3 linked regions of the Homo sapiens genome follow. The protein of the gene in region 1 interacts with the protein of each later gene in a pairwise test. Each region holds a gene or a part of one and is shown on either strand. Other genes may lie near its edges.

Region 1 (8,919 bases):
GGCTCCTGGATGGGCTGGACTGGGTCGGGGGGCAGCCAGCCTGAATGTGGGGCCTTCCCCTGGAGGGGCTTCTCTCTGCCCCTCGGTCCCTGCTCCCTCTCAGGCCCCTTGGTGTCAGGAGGCTGCAGTGGCAGAGCCCAGCTCGGGAAGGTCAGAGGGCCCCGTGCTCAGCAGACAGGGCAGACATGTTCATTAGCCATCCTGTTGCTTCCAAAGTGCAAACTCAGTATCAGAACAGATCTCTAGTTTGGGGACGACTAAGCAGAGAAGGATTCAACAGAAAGTGGAGCCTGGTGCTTGCTATGCTGCGGGGGAGGACGGAGAGGACTTGGGGAGTCTGTGTCTGAAGCGGACACAGTTCTGGGTTCTAAGTCTGGTGTCAGGGGGTCTGCCCTCCTTGCCTTCCCCAACAATGCACCATCCAGTGGTTTATTCTTCCTGGGGGTTCGGCCCCCATGGGAACAGCCCACAGAGCAAGGCAGCAAACCTGAGACCAGAGACCACAGGGCCAGGGCAGCTGAGAAGTCCACCTGGCGGCACAGCAGGTTTGGGGTGTTGGGGCCACAGGCATGGAGGCAGATGAGGTGGGAGGAGGCTGTTGTCTGTTCACATCTGGGCCTAGGAAAGCTGATGGGGCCAGCAAGGGTTTGCAAGGGCTCAAGAAGGCAGCCGAGAGCCACTTCCTACCACCTTTGAAAGCACCTGTTTCCCTCGCTGTCCAGCCATTGCCGCCAGGGAGTCCTCCTGGGCGCGGACCGCCCCGAGTAAGGACAGGCCTGGCTTGCTGCGGGCCGGTGTGGCTGGCCGGGCCCTGCTCGTCGGTGCAGCAGCTGATCCATTCGAGAGGCACGTCCTTCCATCCTGGCCCGGCTCTCGGAGCTGAATCGCACCCGCCCAGCAGCTTCCATGCCAATTACACAGAGTGTGGGTGGGAGGCTCATTAACCCCCAGAAGTGGAACTGGTCCAGGGAGTGGTGAGGATGGACAGGGGCCCTCCAGCCGACGATGGGGGGTTAAGCGTGCCAGGTCAGGGGTTGGGGAGCTGGCTCAGCACCATCCCTGTGGTCTCCACTGCAGCTCTATTTGCATAATTTTGAAGTTGATTGGCCTAAAGGCAACTTCGCTTAATCACAGCTGACAAGTCTCTGGTTGAAACAGCAGCTGCTGCCAATTAGCCGCGTTGGTGCTTTGGTTTGTTATAACTCTCTAGGCAGCAACCCCCAGCTCCCCCTCCTGCCCGCCCCATAATCTGCTTCAGAAGGAAGTGGCAGGGCCAGGTAGCTGCCCAGAGAACCTGCCACATGCTCCAGCCCAGGTCTTCTCAGACTTGCAGGTGCTGGGGAATGGGTTAGCGCGCAGCCTCTGATTCAGCCGGAAGGGTGGCGCGAGAGCCTGCATTTCCAACAGCTCCCGGGAGATGCCAGGGTTGCTGGTTTGTGGGCTGTGCTTGGGGTAGCAATGATCTCACCCAGAAGTTTGCAAACTGGGGCTGCCTGTTTGTGTGAATAAAGTTTTATTGGAACACACCATCACTCATTCATGTAGGATTCTCTACAGCTCTTTTTTGTCTATAACTGCAGAGTGGACAAAGACTGGGTGGCTTGCAAAGCTGGCCCAGCAGCTCTTCCTTGAGTGGGCATCAGAACACCCTGGAAAGCTGGGAGAGATGCAAATCCTTTGCCCCCCCACCCCCCACCCTGGTTCTGATCCAACAGGTCTGTGCAGCCCTGGTGCAGCCACTTCCGGGGATCTCTCTGTTCATCCTGGCCTACCCTGGGTACCATTCCCATTAGATAGCTGGGGAAACTGAGGCTCAGAGTGGTCACTCACTTGTCCGAGGTCCCAAGCTAGTAAGATCTGGCCGATTCCCACCACATCCTGCATCCTTGACCCAGGTCCCTCTCCCCAGGGTGCACCACGTCCCAACTGGGTTCCCTGGCTTGGTCTGCTCCAAATCTGGATTCCACGTGGGGGCCTGCTATTTGTAACCTTGGGCAAGTCACAGAATGACATGTCCTGTTGCAGGAGCATGATGTGTGGGAGACCAGGTCTGTCACGGGCACTGCAGAGAGCACTTGGCCCCTGGGGGGTTATCATTGCCCTGCTCCACATCGATATGGGCGGTTTACACTGTGCAATGCCTCTCCCCTCCCTGCCCCGGACTGTGAATCCTTTGAGGGCCAGGATGGAGACCCATCCTGCCATTGCGGAATCACCTGAGGCCGGGGAACTGCTGCCTGTGAGCCTATGAAGGAGGCAGCAACTCCCCAGCAGTGGCTCAGGCAGGGCCCTGCGTGTTCTTCATCTCAGTCATCCTCCCCTTGACCTGGAGGGGCCAGGATGGAGGCATGGCACCATCCACAAAGGAAGAAACCAAGCCTCCTCGAGGCAGGTGACCCGCCAGGCAGGTAACAACAGCGTAAGAAGCAGCATTGGGATTCTGTGGCCCAGGTGACATGGGGCCACCAGCTCAGTTCCAAACATGGAAATATAGGAGGATGTTATATGGCCTGGTGTCCTCAGTTTATAGATGGGGAAACTGAGGCACAGAGAGTTTATAACTGGGAGGGTCTCAAAGGGACGAGGTGTATGTGGGCTCAGTAGGAGGAGGCTGGGAATTCACACCGATTCCCTACTGGAATTGGACAGTTCCGGCACCACACCCAGCAGCCTGGGACTGTGAACCGGAAAAAAACGCTCCTTTCTCAGGGACCCCCAGCCAGGCCAAAGCAGCTTCTGCAGTCCCCACCCAGGCCCCTGTGTGGGTCTCAGCTGCCCAGAGGGGTGGGCCTGTGTGCAATGGATGGGGGCTGGGGGGTACTGTAATCATTATTTTTCTTTACATATATTTTGAACCTTGATTTTCTATTCTATTTTCCAGACTCCAGGCCATGGAGTCAGGCCCATGTCTCTGCCTGCTTCCTGGTATTCGCCCTCGGCAGTCCTTGCCAAGACTTCTTTATTTACTTGTTTGTTTGTTAATAATATAAGAAACATCCTTGACCCATCCCTCAGCCTGAGAGCAGGAACGTCAGCCTGTGCGCTCCCAAGCAGGGCCCACTTCACCCCACGTCCCGCTGTATGCCTTGCTATAGCCAGATGCACTCTCAAAAAGAACATTTTATTTACAGTTCTTTTTAGCCTTCTAGAAAGCGTACTGTGCTGAACTTCATCTTTGGAGACTTTACTTTCTCTCTAGCCTCATAGCGCTGAGATGCCCCGTAATGTTCTGTGCGGCTGCAGTGCATTTGGGTAGCTGAAGAGTGTTCCGGTGTTTGGCCATAACACCATGCATTTTCCTATTCATCCACTGGGCCGTCTCCAGGGCTGTCTCCAGGTTTTTCCATAGCGCCGCTGTGAGCTTTCTAGAGCCTGGTCCCCTCGGCCGAGAGGGGATGTTGGTGCTTTTCCTCCCCCACAGTTGCTGAGGCAAAGACCCACTGTGCAAGAGGATGTGGTCACAGTGGCCTCCCTGAGGTGGGGTCACCTTCCCTCCAGGCAGCCCTCACCCCGGTCTGCCAGGCAGGTTGGTCTTTGTTGTGCTTCCAACCTCTGTCAAAGGTGAACTTTTAAAATTCCTGCCTCGTAGGGTGGATCGCAAGGAGTAAATGTCATTGGCGGACCCATACTTTTCTATGTCATAGGTGTTCCAGATCTGGTGCACAGGAGGTCTGCTTTGAACTATAACAAAATCCACAGGGCAGTCCAGGCTCAGAGAGACAGAGAAACATGCCCAGGATCACACAGCTGAGAAGCGGCAAGGGACTTGAACCCGTGTTCAAACCCCAAGCTCAGAGCCCTTTTGTTTCTCTGCTGCTATGCTGAGCCCCAGACAAGAGGCAGGAGGAACTTTGTGTGCCTTGTTCCCTCTGCCAGGAACACTCCCCCACCCCCACCCCCGCCCCACCGCCCGACTCATCCTTCAGGTGTCCACACCAGACCCCCTGGTCTGAGTCCCCAGCCAGGCGACCCAGGACGAGTTACTGAAACTCTGTACCTCAGTTTCCGCATCTGTAAATTGGGGATAATCACAGCCCCTCCTAATCATGAAGATTAAATAAATACCACCCCCACTCCCGGCCCCTACCCCGTCAGGCTGCATCAGGCACTCTGGGCGCCCATAGCCCCCTGGTTTCCCATCGTGGCACCCATCGCTCTGGGCTGCCATTGTTGGGACCGTGGTTAGATGAGGGGCACCCAGACCAGTCTGAACTCGCTCTCTGTCCACCGAAAGGAATGGAAAAAGGAGGTTTATTTCTGGCCTGGCTCAGGATGGGCAGGCTTCCAGGGATGGGTGGGAGGCAGAGGAGGGCTGGCCTCCTTTATGGCTGCGTTTAAATGCCACCCAGAAGCCAGCCAAGGGCGCCGCCAAGGTACCACGATGCACGAAGGCCCAGGGGTGGGAGACGGCCATGGGCTGGGGGGGTGCCTGGCACCCAGGAAGTGTGGCTGCAGAGGCCAGCCAGGCCCCTGGGCTGTGTCCAGACAGTCATGGAAGCCACTGATGTGTTTCGAACAGTGGCAGGTGTGGGCATCCCCCGCCCTGTTCCTGCCCCATCCCCACCCCATTCCTACTGGCAGGGAGGACCCTCTGCTGCTGGGTGGGGACAGGCCAGGGGTAGGGGGGCAACAGCAGGAAGATCAGCCCAGCTTGGAGTCAGGCAGGTGCCACACACCCTCTGTGGGCTCTCGGGTCCCAGCTACCCTTCCTCCCCGGGCTGGTGTGGGGACCGTTTGTTTTACCCACACCCCTCCCCGGGCCATGCTGGCCAGAGGGGCTTGTGCAGTGGTGCCACTGACCTCCATTGCCCAACAGAGACTGAGGGCCACGGGAGGGAACCCACATGTATTGTGCCAAGCATCTGCTGAGGTGCGGACCTGGAGCCCGGTGCCCTGGGTCTAAGCCCCTGCTGCTTCTAGCTGTGGGATCTCACAGGGAGTGTCTCTAGTTTGCTCACCTGTAAAATGGGGCTCTTGCTGGTGCTCTGAGGATGCACAAGGCTGTAAGACCAGAGGCTGGAGTGCGTGGGGACTGCGGGAGCAGCCGCTGCCATCCTGGGCCTGGGAGGTGGCGGCCCTAGGCCCAGGCGGGAGCTGGACTCCTGCAGGGCTGACTCAGCGCCCTAGCCCCACTCCCCGCCCTGAGGAGCACACTGAATTCTTGTCAGCACACAGAGGCCAGCCTGCGCTGGAAAACACTCTTTTGCCTATACAAGGCTCGACCAAGTTGCTCTCCTTTTATTGGGGTTTAAGGTTGGTGGCAACCAGGAGCCGGGGAAGAGGCCAGCAGCTGCAGGGAGACCGCAGCCAGCGGAGGGGGCTTCTGATCCCTCAGTCACAGGGCTCGGCAGGTAAGGAGCAGCCTGTGGAGGTTTCCAGGTCCTCACTGTGCAGGGGCACCTCTGTTCCTTCACGCTGACCCTGGGGTCCCTGCCCTGGCTAAGCACTGGGTCTAAGGGAGAAGCCAGGCAAGGCTGCTAAGTGACTCCTAGTCACAGAAGAATGGGAGGGGCCGGGGTGACGGCTATGCCAGTGGGGCAAGATGGGGAGCAGGCTCTGATCTAGAGGGGTGGGAGCCCTGTGGGGGTGCACAGATGCTGGTGCTACTACCTACCTGCTGTGTGACCTTGAGCAAGTTGCTGACCGTCTCTGTGCCTCAGTGTCCTTGTGTCAAGAGCCTTGCATAGAGAGGGGTTGGAGAGAAGGCCAAAGGCTCGGGGGAGGGTCCGGCATGGCCTAGGGAGTGCTCTCAGGATGCCCTAGTCATGGCCTGGAGGGCATTTGGTTGGCTTCACGGGGGTGAGGTGGGTCTGTTCGACCCACTTCAGAGTCTGCAGTCCCAGTCCAGCATCACACCGGTACGAAATAAGTGAATAGATGAATGAATGAATGAATGAACGAACAAATGAATGCATTGGCCCCTCCGAATACGCCTTCAAGGCAGGTTTGTTGTCCCCATTTACAGATTGGGAAACTGAGGCTTAGGGCTTTGGCTTCTCTTCACTCCAGTGAGGAAGGGGTTCTGGGGACCAGGGAGGCTGAGGGAGCTGAAGAGAAACCCAGAGCCACCCCCACCCCGAGGCGAGCGCCATGCCTGTCTTTCCTCTTCCTGCCCTGACACTTTAAGTGATTCATTCTTCATGTGATATTTTTGTGTTTCTCCAGTGGGAAAAAAATGCCTCTGGGATTTCCAGGGGTTGTTTTATCTCCATGGTGCAACCAAATAACTCAGGAGGACAGAGAGAAACAAAGGGTTGTTGAGCTGAAGAAGGCCCATGATTGTCTCGGCCAAGCTCTCCCTTTAATAGGGGAGGAAACTGAGTCTGGCCTGAGCCCCTCGCCCTGTGACCCAGTGTGGCCCCCTGGAGGACAGTGGGGCATCTAGGGCCTTCAGCAGGGTTGGGGTTTCCAGCTAAGCCCCTTTCAGCTGTGTGTTCTCGCTCAAGTCCCCCTTTCCCCAGGCCTCAGCTTCCTCATCTGTAAAATGGGATCACAGTGGTGCCTACTTCCAACATTCGAGACAGTAGCACATGCAGAGAACTTTGATGGGTGCAGAACTGGCCCAGGCCAGGGGCTCAAAAGGGGGAACCATTGAAACAGCTGAGTTTGTAACTTGGACTCAGAGCCCAGCTGGCTGGGGCATGGTGGATTCAGCAGGGAAAGGTGTCAGTGAGGGACAAGAGCCTTATTAGGGATACACTGGAATGGTTATCCACTGAGGGAGGGATCTGGGGAGATAGGAGAGGTTTCCACGTTGGAGGTCACCTGCGTGCCTTCCCAATTCCAGCACCCAGGCCAGCACCCTTCGTGGCAGTGTGCTTCTCCTCGTGGCCCTGACCCTGAGAGCAGCCCCATGGAGCAAGTGGTATGCCCGCCTGGTAGGGAGACAGTGAGGGCCCAGGGGGTGTGAGCCGGCCCACCTCAGCTCCCCTGGACTTAGGGGGACCTGTCCCACTGGAGCCCTGGAGTTGGGTTTCTAGGCTAAAATAAGGGACTTCCACCCAGGGCTGATGGCCCAAGGTCACTCCCGGTGGTGGCCGTAAAAGTTGAGGCCATGTCTCAGTTGAAGGAGATCTCCTGCCTGGATCTCTGCTGTTCCCATCTGGAAGTTTGCTCTTTGCAATAAAACAAACCAGGCCAACGAGTGCTAATGGAGTTCCTACTCTATGGCCGGCAGACATTTATTCAGCACCTACTGTGTGCAAAGCATGGTGGGGCGATGCAGAGGCACAAAATTTCCCACCCTTGAAGAGCTTGTACTAGGCAGGGAAGCAGTAAACCAACAGGTAAGGCAGAGGGAAATCCGTGCCAACTAAAGGAACAAGCAAAGCACGGAAAGATGAACTGGGGAAATCAGACGTAGACATGGAGTTCAAACACAATTTCATTTGCCAAGGGGCACACAGGACCCTCTCTGGTACCTAAACCATCAGCTTTGGGAACAGTAGAGTAGGCAACATCGGATAAGAACGGTTTATGGATCAGCTGCTAATGTTCTGGGTGCCCTGCTAGCTTCTGGTCCTTTCTATGTTTGGTATACCTGCAAGGTGTGGGGCACGGCTCCCGTTTCACAGATGAGGAAGCTGAAGCCCGTGAAGTAACTTGCCCTAGATCACCCAGCTAGTTAGTGATAAAGCTCTGATCCAAGGCCAAGGAGACTCGCTGCAAAGCCTATGTGGTCGCCCCCAGCACCCTGTCTGGAGTCGAGCAAACCTGGGTTCAGATTGCAAACCTTCCACCCTCCAGCTCTGGGCAATCACTTAGTTTCTCTGAGCTGTGGTTTATTTATCTCAGCAATGGAGATGATCATTGCTTATGTTCATTCAACCAATTAACACATGTTTATAAAGTGCCTACTACGTGTCAGGCCTGTGCTGCCCATAGAGATGAGCAAAAACGAAATGGTCTCAGCAGGGCTGGGTTCGGGGATGTGACCGCTGCAGGGCTAGGCATCAGGTCAGCAGGGCTCAGGTCACATTGGCCGTTACTAGGGTGTGAGGTGCTGGCCCTTCTCACTCACTGTCAGCCGTGGAGCCCGGCACCCCAGCTGCAGGCGAACGGGCTGCTTCTCTGTCCTTCTCCAGCCATACACTCTGGCTGCCTCGGTCCTGGCCAGCACAGCGAGGAAAGATGTCCTAGTTCTCTCCTGCCGCTTCCCCCTGCAAGCATGAAGGGGTCACAAAGACATGCTTTGATCTCACTTCATATGCAGGCGTGGAGCCTCGAGAAGTGTTTATTCCTGGACTTCACGTTTCAGAGTGAGATTTCATAACCTCTAAGTGGATGTCCTGAAAACAAAAGTTCACAAACTCAGGATTAGGTCTGCACTGCCGAGGAAAGGCCCTGGAGACTGGGAAACTTGTGGAGGTTAAACATCCCTGATGATACATATGTGCACACGTGTGTACATGTGTGTGCTGTGTGGAGACAGGCATGCACACAAGTGCTGCCTGCAGGGGTAAACACTCTTATGAGTCGTGGAGACAGGGCACAGGAGCAGACCCCGGGGTTTGAGTCCCCTCTCCGAGCCCCACATTCTCCATCTGTGTAACAGAGAGACTGAGGGTGCAGCATAGGGCTGGGTGGGAAGGGAACGGGTGAGGAATGGGGAGCATTGGGCACCGTGCTCTGCCCTGGGCTCGGGTGATCTGCAGCTGCTAGCCCGTCTCCTCGTCTGTACTTCCTGCCCTTCTGCTGGGCCGCTGCCTACCCGCAGGACTGTTGGTGGGGCTCCAGAGAGCCCTGCCCTGTTGAATTACTAATCCGTGCTAATGCTACCACTGCTAATCATCGTGCCCACATAGAATTACTCATCATTACGTAATCTACTGTCTGTGACCGCCTCCCCCCAGGCTGTAAGCCTTATGGCAGCGGGAATCCCCCACGCCCAGAACTGTTGGTCCACAGTAGAGACTCGTT
Region 2 (4,606 bases), on another chromosome or scaffold:
TGGGAGGCCAAGGCAGGCGGATCCCTTACACTCAGGAGTTCAAGACCAGTCTGGGCAACATGGTAAAACCCTGTCTCTACCAAAAAATACAAAATTAGCCAGGCATAGTAGTGTGTGCCTATAGTCCTAACTTGGGAGGCTGAGTTGGGAGGATGGCTTGGGCCCAGGAGGTCGAGGCTGCGGTGAGCCATAAGCATGCCACTATACTCCAGCCTGGGCAACAAAGCGAGACCCTGTCTCAAAAAAAAAAAAAAAAAAAAAAGAAACTGCAGCCAAGCCAGCCCCTAGGTCTCTTTCTAGAGCGATCACTGATGGCACCAGGGTGAGCAGGGGCACTGTATGCATGTGGAGACAAACAGCACATGCCTGGCACACATGTAGGGTAGGGAGTGGTTAAAGGCACTGGCTGTCGACTCATACACATGATCTGAAATCTGATTCTGCTTTAACCCGGCTACAGGAGCTAAGGCCTATTTTTTAGCCCTTTGGGATCTGTAAAATCAGAATGGTACCCACCTCATGGGGACATGAAAGGATTCAAATGAATTGATGAAGATGGGCCATAAAGCCCAGCACAGTCCAAGTGCTCACTCACTGAGAGTTACGGTTATCACAGGGGTTGGGCCCCCAGCCCCTCCCAGGTCATCTGCTCTACCACTAGCTGGTAGGAAAGAGCCTCCTGCCCTCCCAACCCCCGTCACCTACTTGGCCCAAATTTGGCTGCAGGCTCCCCGAGTGCCTGGGCTTCTCTACCCAGGGTCCTGTCTGTCGGCTGCACCATACGTCCCTGACCACAAGGCATCCACGTGCACAGGAGTATGCGCCCAGCAGCTGGGAAGGAGGCTGACCTCAGACGGTGGCCTGTGGATCCCAGCTCTGTCATTTCCTGGCTGGGTGACCTCAACCTAGTCACCCTTTTTGAGTCTTGTTTTCTCAGATTATGAAATAGGAAAAATTTCCTTCCTCGTGAGATAAGCACGTGCCATTAGCTATTAAGGACACGCACATAAATGAGCTGCATGTGAATCCACACATGCCATTCCATGAAGACAGAGGATCATGTGGATCTTTGGTGCCTTCCGGTTGGCCCCTCCCTAGGTCTGTGAGGGTCAGACCTGTCCTGAGGCTTTTACAAATTGGCCCAGAACTCATTTAACCACAGCATCATTTCATTAGAGGGCTGTTATTAGAGACTGAATGTTTGTGTCCCCCCCAAATTCCTGTGTTGAAAGGCTCACCCCCACTATGGTAGTGTTAGGACGTGGGGCCTTTGGGAGGTGATGGGGTTATGAGGGTGGAGCCCCAGAGAGCTCTCACGCCCTTTCCACCATGTGAGGTTATGGTGAGAAGATGGTCTCTGAGGAAGCTGGCCCTTGCCACACACCACATTTGCCAGCGCCTTCATCTTGGATGTCTATAGCCTCCAGAACTGTGAGAAATAAACACTTGTTGTTTAAGCCACCCAGGCTATTATATTTTTGTTATAGCAGCCTGAACAAAGACAGCTTTGATTCTTAACATATTTAATGAAACTCGAGCTTCATAAACCAGTGAAATGCCTACCCCTATGGAGATGGGGAGCTGGTCATGGGACCCAGGTGCCTGGAGGACATCCCAGTGGCTTTGAAGGCTCCAGCCAGTCAAGACGGTCAATATTAGCCCTTCTGCCAACATCTGGCAATGTGAGGCTGGGGTGGACGTTGGCCTGATGTTGCCAGGAGTAGGATGCTGATGCTGCCAGAGAGTAGGTGGGCTCCAAACCCCAGGCTTCTCACTTGCTTACTAAGCACAGCAGTCTGAAGCTTGGGACCTGGCAGTGCGTCTTTGGAGAAGGCAAAAAAGCCACAGCAGCAACACTTAGGAGCAAGACCCTTCCCGCTCTCCACCCTATTTCCTCCCCTGAAGAAGAGCAACAGCTCAAGCTCTAGCATGGCACAGAACGCTAGGTTGGGCCAGGCAAGCAGCCATGGTGGGGCCAGGTGAAGCAATGTGGGTCTCAGCAAGGAACCCCTCTGAAGGTGGCAGTGGCTCCCAGGGCTGCTGCACACTGGACACCACAACTTTGGCATCAGCTGCATGGTGAGCTGCAGAGTGGTCAGAGGGGCTGGGGCCCTGCCAAGAGAGCAAGGCCAGACCTGCCCAGCGGGAGGCAGGAAGGCCCTGATCCAGCAAGGAGAAGTAGAGGAAGTCCACAGCCACCTCTGTTACTCATCGCTACTGGGACATCTGGGGACAGGCTCTGTTCTTGGGAGAGCAGGTCACCAGGATTTGTAGGGCTGCCTGCCGGTGACAGACACGTAAGTCACAGGGAAAGGCCGGGATCCAGGCCTCAGCTGTAGCAGCAGCTGGAAGAGGTGGAGCCGCACGGTCACAATACATGCAGACACAGAGCAGCAATACGAAACAGAACAGCTCAGAGCGGTCAGCTCCTCAGCAGAAGCTGCGTGGGCCGCCACTCCCCCTTTCTGCAATCACCCCATGATGTCTCCACCCCACCTCACATCCAGATGGGGCTGGATGGCAGAGCAGATGAAGCCTGCTCTGTGGCGGGGCAGCCTAACTGAAATGCACACCTTTATGGGGGAAGTGGACGGACACCTCACCTCCCTCATGTTTCACACCGTGGACTGCACTTGAGTCCCAGCTCTTCACCACATCCCTAGGAGTCTTAAGAGGAAATCAGTCTGATTTCTTCAGACAGGAGCAGCAAGAGCGGCCAGAGCGAGGAGGACCTCGTGTGAATGGAGGACCTGAGAGGCTGACGCCAAGGAGTGCAGAAGCCAAAGCCACCAAGGAAAGCAGACAGGCAGCAAGCAGCCAGAGAAGGCAGGCCCAGCACCCAGGCAAAGCCACCAAGGAAAGCAGACAGGCAGCAAGCGGCCGGAGAGGGCAGGCCCAGCACCCAGGCAAAGCCACCAAGGAAAGCAGACAGGCAGCAAGCGGCCGGAGAGGGCAGGCCAGCACCCAGGCAAGAAGTCTGGGCCCAGCATTGGAAGAAAGTCGCCTGCTGAAACCAGCCGGGAGCCCTGGGAAGAGCAGAGCTTCTGAGGGGAGCACAGGCTGCACCACCAGGAGCTCTTGGGAGCCCCTTCCTGCTGCTTCACTCCCCATCATGCAGCAGGGGCTGGAAAGAGAGGCAGATGCCCAGGAGTTAATGACATGATGCAGGAGTCACACCAGGCCCAAGCTGTTCAGACAGACCCCCAGCCTGCAGGGTGGTCCCCATCCAAGCCACCAAATCCCTCAGGGAAGCCCCAAAGTCCCTGAGCCTGGTACACACCCCGTCTCCCTACATCCCATCAAGACCTGCTCTGAGCACTCAGCTGGTCACCAGGCACCCATCCCACTAGACTAGCCCCCAGGCTGGTAAAGGAGAAATCACACACCCTTGTCACAGTCAAGCCCTTCCTTGGGGAAGAAGATAAGGCCACACTTCACCCCACAGAACCACAGTGATTTGGGGGGGAAATTCTGTCTCCCAATGGACAGACTGGGGAGTCCCAGCATTTCACTGGGATGCGCTGGTTTGGGACCAGTGCTCCCCATCAGCCACCCTAACTCCACCCTCAAGTTACTTGGTTTCCTGCTGTGCCACAGGGTAAGTCTTCTTGTCAAGGCCCCAGCCTTTCGTGGGAGATCCTTCTCTAGACCTGGCCCTGTCCCACCCTGGAATGTGGGACTGGAACCCATACCTGTCTGTCGGTCAGGATCCCCGGCTCTGGGCGCTTCCAAGATGAAGCCAGAAGGATGTAGAGCACCAGCAGCCCAAAGGCCACCACCAGCATCCCGGTGCTGTTGGCAAAGACCGCCTCACTGGGCAGGCTGTGGTATGGCCTGGTGGTGTTTTTCCTGAAGATGACAAAACAATGTGAGCCCTCGAGAGATTTTTCCACCTATTTTTGTCTAGTGGGAGACTCGATGTCACTAACAGAGGGTGAGAAAACCTTCCCGGGTCCATATGTGATCTAGAATTTTAACACCCTTTCTTTTTTTTTTTTTTTTTTTTTTTGAGGCAGAGTCTTGCTCTGTCACCCGGGCTGGAGTGCAGTGGCACGATCTCGGCTCACTGCAAGCTCCGCCTCCTGGGTTCACGCCATTCTCCTGCCTCAGCCTCCCAAGTAGCTGGGACTGCAGGTGCCTGCCACCACGCCTGGCTAATTTTTTGTATTTTTAGTAGAGACAGGGTTTCACCATGTTAGCCAGGATGGTCTCGATCTCCTGACCTCATGATCCGCCCGCCTCGGCCTCCCAAAGTGCTGGGATTACAGGCGTGAGCCACTGCGCCCGGCTGAATTTTAACACCCTTTCTAAGTCCCTGCAAATATTTGTATAATGAGCCAGGTGCAGCGGCTCACTCTTGTAATCCCAGCACTTTGGGAGGCCAAGGCATGAGGATTGCTTTACCCCAGGAGTTGGAGACTAGCCTGTGCAACATAGTGAGATCCTGTCTCTACAAAAATAAAACTTAGCTAGGTGAGGTGGTCCATGCCTGTAGTCCTAGCTTACTTAGGAGGCTACATTGGGAAGATCGCTTGAGTGCAGGAGTTTGATGCTGCAGTGAGCTATGGTCACACCATTGCTCTCCAACCTAGGCAACAGAGTGAGA
Region 3 (8,018 bases), on another chromosome or scaffold:
AGAACTTGGAGTCTGATGTTCCAGGGCAGAAAGCATCCAGCACGGGTGAAAGATGTAGGCTGGGAGGCCAGACCCATCCCTCCTTTTCATGTTTTTCTGCCTGCTCTATATTCCCTGGAAGCTGGTTAGATGGTGCCCACTAGATTAAGGGTGGATCTGCCTTCCCCAGCCCACTGACCCAAATGTTAATCTCTTTTGGCAACACTCTCATAGACATACCCAGGATTAATACTTTGTATCCTTCAATCCAATCAAGTTGACACTCAGTATTAACCATCACACCTCCAAATGAGGAAACAGTGTGAACAAAATATTCACCTAAAAGAAGCTGTGATTTGTAAATAAGCAACTGACAGCATATTCGGCCTCTCTGGTAATCAAAGAAAATGCTGACACAAATAACTATGTATGTTTCTTTTCTATGGAATTAACTATGATTTTAAGTTTGCTGTTTAATTCTGGCAAGAGACTCTGAGATAAACACTGGTACTCTTGATTGGGAAGAAAGTAAAGGTCACAGCCAGAACTTATGAATGTATCAAAAGCTTTAAATGCATTTGTAACCTTTGATTGAGTAATTCTGCTTGTCAGAATATACCCTAAGGAAAAAATTATGAAATCCAGATATTTATGTTCATATGGTTATCACAGCACTATTCAACCAGCAAAGAAAATGAAACAACCTAGTAATTAAAATGAGTTAAAGAGCTTTTCTACTTTTACATGAGAAAATGCTCATGACATAATGTTTAGTAGTAAAAGCTCAGCACTTGAAATCACGTATTCAGTAAAATCTCAAGAGTATAAAGCAAATATTCGTAAATGCATAAAAAAGACTAAAGGTAAATAACCTTAATGTGCTGGAGATTGCAAGCAATTCTTAGGGTTTAGGTATCTTTTTGGCTTTTTCTTTTTTATTTTTTCTTTTTGCACAAAGAGCATGTGTTACTGTGATGAGGGGCAAAACCTTTCATTAAAGGCCCAAGCAACATCTACCTACCACCATCTGTAAGGGCTCACCCAGGAGACAGCAACAGCAGCAGGGGACCGCCAACTCCACTCCCAATAAGGAACTAGCACTGAGGATTTGGAAGGCAGTTTCCCATGAGCAGTTTCTTCCCTGAAGAGGAAGAGAAAATTCATCTCCAGGACTGGATCATACCATCTCACATCTTGGAGGGCTCTGCAGCTTGTATCAGCCACAGACAGTCAATGAAGACACAGCTAGAACCGTCCATCCCGGCTGCACTGCAGAGCAAGTTCTTGTCACTGTGCTGAACTTCTGGGTTCTCATCTTTACAATGGACTCTTGGCAATACTCCGTTTAAGAGTATTTATGGGAACTAGACAAGATAAGAACTGGTTTATTATTGCAAGATATAGCTGAGTTTTTTTTTTAACTTCATTAATAAATATCCAACACATGAAGACACACTAATAATACATTTCTTGACTTATGTCAGACTGTTACCATATAATTAAATTTTTCACATAATTATTTTCCCTTCTTAAGAGTCATTTATTTAACATTAGACACTTTCATAGTTAAATTTTCTAAAATATGTCAAATGTTTCCCTGTTAGCTAATTTGCTACACACTAAGACACACTATTTACTTTCTTTTTCAAATGACTTGGGGTCCTTACTATGAACAAAGTATGTGTTAGAGGAGGAAGGGGGCCAATATCTTTAAGTAACTCCAGTGTACTCTCATTGTAATTACCTCTTTAATTATTATCGAATATATTACTCACAACAGCCTAACTTTGCAGATTGCTCCAATTTCCAGGCTGAGAAAAATGAGGCTCAGAGAAAGAAAGTGAAATGCTGAAGGTTACGCAGCTAGTAGGCAGTAGAGTAACTAACCCAGATTGAGTTCCAAAGCCCTGTGGTCTTTAATAGCGCAAGGAACTGTCACATCCTCCAGTGATGGCTGGAGCTGAGATTGCTTTAGTTCTGTAACAAATGCTACTTCGTTCTTGTATCTGACCTCTGCAGTTTGTGGGGCTTTCAATTTTCACTGTTTAGTTCGTTAGTTTATTAATTTTTGGCTTATTTTCTGTAAGGAATTCTCTGCAACATTTTGATGCCTTCAACCTGTCTTACCCTAAGAAATTAAGGAAATCTCTTATGATTACGTCTAAGGCCAGTAGGTTCTAAATGAGTCTGTAAAAGTGACTTCTCTAAGTGTGCTGCAATGACCTAATGACTTGTCCGTTGTTACCTGGCAGAACTTTCTGCTTCTTTCCAACTTTCCAGCTGCATTTCAGATAATTAAAGTTATTTTCTCTCAGGACAGAGGAGCGGGACTACTGTTCCACGTAGACGTATGTGTATGTATTACCAAAAAAAAAAGTTAAACTGTTAAAGTAATCACGGGTGCAGTGGCTCACGCCTGTAATCCCAGCACTTTGGAAGGCCAAGGTGGGTGGATCACCTGAGGTCGGGAGTTCGAGACCAGCCTGACCAACATGGAGAAACCCCGTCTCTACTAAAAATACAAAATTAGCCAGGCGTGGAGGCACATGCTGGTAATCCCAGCTACTCGAGAGGTTGAGGCAGGAGAATTGCTTGAACCCAGGAGGCGGAGGTTGTGGTGAGCCGAGATCACGCCGTTGGACTCCAGCCTGGGCAACAAGAGCAAAAACTCCGTCTCAGAAAAATAAATAAATAAATAAATAAAAATAAATTAATCATTACTCATTGCTGTTTATTAAATGCCTTTTCTGTTCCCACTGTGATTCTACAATCACTGCCTCTGTAAAACCCCGGAATGCAGGTGTTCTTGCCTCCATTTTATAGATGAGGAAATCAAGACTCAGGGCTTCCCCACCAGGCCAAAGGCATTCTGTGAGTAGTTTATTTCAATTCAACATGGCTGTGCTGCACATGGCAGTTGGAGTAAAGATCTATCAGCATCGGGGGTTCTTCATGATCTAACTAAAGTGAATCATGAGTGCTTTCCCACTGCGTCAAGAAGGCCTGGAGTTTGTGCAGCCCGGCTAGAGGTGAGCAAAGCCTCTGTGTTGCAAATCTCCAGGGCGCAGCCTCTCATTGTATTCAATGCAGATGACAGTCCCAAAGGCACCGCCCATACATTGTACAGACAGCTGGCCTGGCTCTCCGGATTGTGCAGGATAGGCCTTAATGGCAGAAGGTAGGGGAGAGGTGGGCGTCACAAAAGTGCTTGGGGAACTATAAAGTAAACAATGAAAAGCAGCACAGGAAGGTTCAGACATCACACAGGAGAAGCACAGGGTGTTCCCCTGGGTGGGGATTTAAAACAAGGGCCTCAAGTTCCCTGCCCTTGTCTCTGGGCAGAAGGGGCAGATAATGCTATGATACATTTTTTGTAGGTGGTGCCATTTGACTGCATTTAACCAACAAAGGTATGTATCGAAATCCACGTGGAGATTTTCATGGCAAAAGTAGAGCGAATTCACAAACTGCACTGTGTCTGGCAGCTTCAGACAAAAGCAATGGGAACAAATCACGACTCTTGTCCAGCAATTCTTCCTGTTTTGGAATGATCTTTGCTCAACAGCCCATCCATGAGTACAGGGCCCCCAAAGGCCAACAAGACAGGGACTCTCTCCAGGGACAAATGCCCCGCAGCTGAGAGAGGCCGCCCAGCTATCCAGCGGCCGCGCAGCCAGCCAAGATTTCAACACAGGTCTGCCCTATTTGGTCACCATCCCCGACAGTGCTGGGCCAGGCCATCATGTCACATTGGGGAGTTTTCCCTGCACTCCAGGGGGAATTCTCAACCACAACCTCTGTATCCGGTAGTGGCAGATGGAAAGAGAAACGGTTAGAAAAGCGTGGTTCTTGCGCAGGAAAGTTGGAGCAAAGAAGAGTTCAGAAGTGGGCGGGTGTGTGTTTAAAAAAAAAAAAGGGGGTGGAAACCCCACCAGCCAAGTCTGCAGAAAAAAAATAAATGAAGTCTGCCTATCTCCGGGCCAGAGCCCCTCCCCTCGGCCCGCGCGGGAGGAGTGTGACCCAGGTGCCGCTTCCTCTCGCCGCCGAGGGTCAGGAGCCCGGGAGCGCGACCCTCCCCCGGCCCGGCCTGGCCCGGCCTGGCCAGTCCCCGCGGTCTCTGCCCGGGCTGACGCCCAGGAATGTGGTCGACGAGAAGCCCCAACAGCACGGCGTGGCCTCTCAGCCTCGGTGAGTACCCGCCGTGGGGAAGGGTCCTGGGGACCCACTGGAGGCCGCGGCCCGCAGCAGCCAGGGGCCGAGCCACGGCCACGGACGCCCTGGTGTCCCGGTCCGTGCCGGGCCTCCAGGCGGAGGAGGCGTCCGCTGGGCTCAGATCCCCGACTCCAGCCCCGGTTCCCCGGCGCCTGGGCTGCGCGGAGTCCCTGTCCCGCGTCCCGGACCCCTACGCGCAGCCTCCACGCGCTCCGAGCTGGAGAAGCCGCCAGCCCGCCCTCCCAGGGCGTGTCGCCCGCTTTCTGTTTCTTTGTGCGGGGCATGTGAAATGTGTGGGGCCAGAATTGTCTCCCTAAAGAACAGTTAGGTGAGAGTTCACATCACAAGTTGCTTCTGTGCTGCTCCCCAGCCAGGGTCCGACCGGCCAGGCTCCGGTGAACTCCAGGCAACTCCAGCCTTGCCCAGGGACTTGCTCGCTCCGCTGGGCGCCGCAAAGGCACACAGATGCGAGGGAATCCTGCGGCCTGGATCCTTTGGGGATTTGTAATTCCTCGCTGCTGGTTTTCTCTTTTAAACCATCACGTTTTCTTGCTGAGAGGAAATCATCTGTGATGAAAGTCTTTGTAGATGCTTGGAAACATTGCTGGGCCTCTCTCTGCCCTCTTCCTCTGCCGTTGGACTTTTGCAATAAAAACTACCATTTGATTTTACCAAAAAACGTAATGTACATCCCTCTTACCCCCACCCTGCCGCGGTCTGATTCTTAGAGTCTGTCAGAGAGGAGATACCCTGAGCCTATCATGTGACAATGATACCTTATTGATATGATAATGATATGGGTATTGGAGACACCAACTCTTTTATAAGTCTTTGAAATCCAGGGGGTTGTGAGGCCTCACCCCTCACCCCGCCTGAGCTTGGAGCTTGGCGTGGAGGAGTGCTGCTTCGGTCTACGTGTGTACACGGCACTCCATGTGCCTGTGGTTGTGCTTGCGTCAGCCTGGGAGTGCGCAGGCATCAGTGGTGCTTGGGAGCGAGGCCCCTCAGTCTGCACTGGGATCATCTGCACTGCCTATAAACAAGGCAGCCTCTCTTAGCTCCAGTTTCCTCATCTGCAAAGTAGGAAAGTAGGAATAATAACAGGAGATAACTCATCCAGCAGCACGAAGTGCGTATAAATGTCCCGGCACGGAGTCTGACACATCCTAAGTGCTGGATCCGTGCTGGGCATGTTTATATAATTGCACATGAGACTGTGGTTCCCGGAGCACGTAACTTGAGCATATGTTTATGTGTGTGTATACGGCAGGTCCTGGGTTAAAGGGACAGGAGCCACTGTCATTATTCCAATTCAGTCACTGAGGAGGTGAGGCTGAGAGGCATTCTCATGTCTGAAGAGGATGGGCTTGCCTGACCCCCGCCCCCGTGCCCAGCCCAGCCCAGCAGCCCAAGCAGTTCTCCAGGACTCAGGTTTCAGACCTTCAACACTTGCCTTGGGAGACAAACAGCGGTGCAGCCCTTGCTTGCAAGCCATTCCACATTAGACTTCGGATTGATTTATGGCAGGATCCCTGCTGTGCGAGAACTGCAGGGGGGGTGGGGGGCGGCTATTTCTTGCTGCTAACTCAGGCAGGATGTGTCTATATCCTGTCTCAGTTTATGTAGCTGCTCATCAGAGCCAGAGGTTAGAGCGGAGAGGACCCACTTCCGCCAGGCCGGCCTGCTCTGCTCAGCTCAGCTGGGCTAGGCCCCAATGCCACAGTTACTGCGCGTGAGTCATGCACAGCAATCCATTGCCTTGCCCTTGGATGGAAGGGGTCAAGGCTCAGTGAGAAGACGGCCAGGTTTGGCAGCTTTATATAGAATTCACCGCCTCTGGCAGAAGCAGAGGATTGCATTAAGTGCCAAATGAAATTCCACCTCAGCCATTGCTCAATTCCTCCAGATGTCACTGGCACTGGGAGTCACATGATGCTGGTGGTCAGCAGCTGGACCCTTCCAAGGGTGCCCGTGGTTGGGCAAGTATTTCTGGGGACTTGCAGAGCTCCCTGGGGAGCAAAGGGTTGTGAAGTACAAGGCATTCTGCGCTTGTGGTGGGAACAAGTGAACCCATCTGCAGTGAGTAGGAAGAGGTCCCCTCAACAGAGGTGAGAGGTTGGGCCAAGTCAAGTCAGTTTGCCTCTTCAGGTGGCAGACCTGTATGTACATCTATGCCTCAAGTGCCTGTCTGAGGCCACAGCCAAAACATCTTCCAGTAACTGAGCATACCCAGTGGGCCAACAAGCACGCTCTAAATACAAAACCAAACAAACAGTAAAGTTAACAGTGAATGAAGAGTTAAAAATAGGAGAAAGACACCTTCTCCCTACCTCAATGGCAATTACTTTATTTATTGAGGATAATCCTTCTAGAAGTAAATTTGCTGATACAAATATTTCTTATTTTACATAATAAAAATGCATTTTATATATTTTACTTCATCTTGTTTTTTTTCCATCAGAATATCTCTTAAAGGTTATACCTTGTTATTTTCTTTAATCAGTTCCTCTGCTGATGGGCATTTAGGCTGTATGCAGACTTCATTTAATTTTTTTAAACCACACACAGCAGTCCTGTGACAATGAGTAAGGAGGATTTTACATGCATGTGTCTGTAAACTGTTAGGATAAATTCTCCCACCTCAGCATTTGATTTCTGGGACAAAGTGTGTATTCATTTAAAATGTTAGTAGATCTTAAGAAACTACCCTCCTAAAGGTCACACCGGTTTCTCATGCTCACAAATAGCCTATGAAAGTCACTATTTCCCTGCGTCCTCACTCACACTGCATTTTTTATCTTGGCCAAACTGAGAGGTAAAACAACAAAACAAACGCTGTCACTTTGGAATGAGCCTCTGTAATTAAGTGAGACTGAGCATGTTTTCTTACTTCCATAAGAGGTTGTATTACTTTTCGGGGAAGTGTCGGTTGATGCTTTTGTCCATTTCCTGTCAGCACCCCACCCCCGTGAGGAAACGTGCCCCAGAAGTGAAAGGACATGTCCTCATCACATGACGAGTGAGGGGCAGAGCAGAGGCCAGAGCAACATCCGTGCTGTGGAGTCAGCCCTGGGTTTGACTGCCCTCCAATGTTCACCAGCTTTGGGAGAGAGAGGAAATACCTCAGCACCTCAGTTTTCCCATCTGTGAGTGGGAATGATAACAGCCACTTCCCCAGAGTCACCCGAAGAGCAACAGCAGAAGGGCCTGGACCTGCTCCCAGTGGCAGAGGCTTGGGAGGTGGCTTTTGTTAGCGAAATTTATTGGAGCAAACCTGGCCTGAGGATGCTGGTAATTTCAGGAGTCACCCTCCAGACAGCTGTTGTTTTTCGCTTTTGATAAAATAACAACAAACTTAGATGCCGAGCCCTGGTAAGGGGCTTTCCTGGGTCTCCCCTGCACACCTGCTATGATAGGCATTTTCTTTTCTTTTTCTTTCTTTTCTTTTTTTTTTTTTTTTTGAGACAGAGTCTCGTGCTCTGTCACTCTGGCTGGAGTGCAGTGGTGTGATCTCAGGTCATTGCACCCTCCACCTCCTCCACCTCCTGCGTTGAAGAGATTCTCTGCCTCAACCTCCCAAGTAGCTAGGACTACCGGCATACGCCACCACACCCAGCTAATTTTTGTATTTTTTGTAGAGACTTTCGGATGAAACACCAGAGGCTCGGGGGAGATAAGCCGCCATAGGGCACCCAGACACTGAGGGCGCAGCCAGGCTGTAGTTACAAACTGCCAGACCCCACAGGCAACTGAGGCCAACCCAAGGAGAGAGTTGCAGGGTATGTGGGCCCACAGCTTGTATGTGCCAGGCAGGGCCTGCTGCTGTG

Evidence for each region.
Region 2: the proteins of SHISAL1 (region 1) and CYB561A3 interact in binary tests that used the Homo sapiens proteins (3 or more experiments, as listed by UniProt).
Region 3: the proteins of SHISAL1 (region 1) and GYPC interact in binary tests that used the Homo sapiens proteins (3 or more experiments, as listed by UniProt).

Annotation. Positions count from the first base shown.
Region 1 is NC_000022.11:44,309,183-44,318,101, reverse strand, and holds the start of SHISAL1 (protein shisa-like-1 precursor), read left to right. Parts: upstream 1-5,150; 5' UTR 5,151-5,351; intron 5,352-8,919.
Region 2 is NC_000011.10:61,347,299-61,351,904, forward strand, and holds the end of CYB561A3 (lysosomal membrane ascorbate-dependent ferrireductase CYB561A3), read right to left. Parts: intron 3,850-4,606; coding exon 3,693-3,849; intron 3,125-3,692; coding exon 3,101-3,124; 3' UTR 2,346-3,100; coding exon of another isoform or gene 2,259-2,345; 3' UTR 1,507-2,258; downstream 1-1,506. Other genes in the region: TKFC (triokinase/FMN cyclase), read left to right, coding at 727-909. UniProt on the Homo sapiens protein: Transmembrane reductase that uses ascorbate as an electron donor in the cytoplasm and transfers electrons across membranes to reduce iron cations Fe(3+) into Fe(2+) in the lumen of the late endosome and lysosome.
Region 3 is NC_000002.12:126,652,146-126,660,163, forward strand, and holds the start of GYPC (glycophorin-C), read left to right. Parts: upstream 1-4,012; 5' UTR 4,013-4,118; coding exon 4,119-4,167; intron 4,168-8,018. UniProt on the Homo sapiens protein: This protein is a minor sialoglycoprotein in human erythrocyte membranes. The blood group Gerbich antigens and receptors for Plasmodium falciparum merozoites are most likely located within the extracellular domain.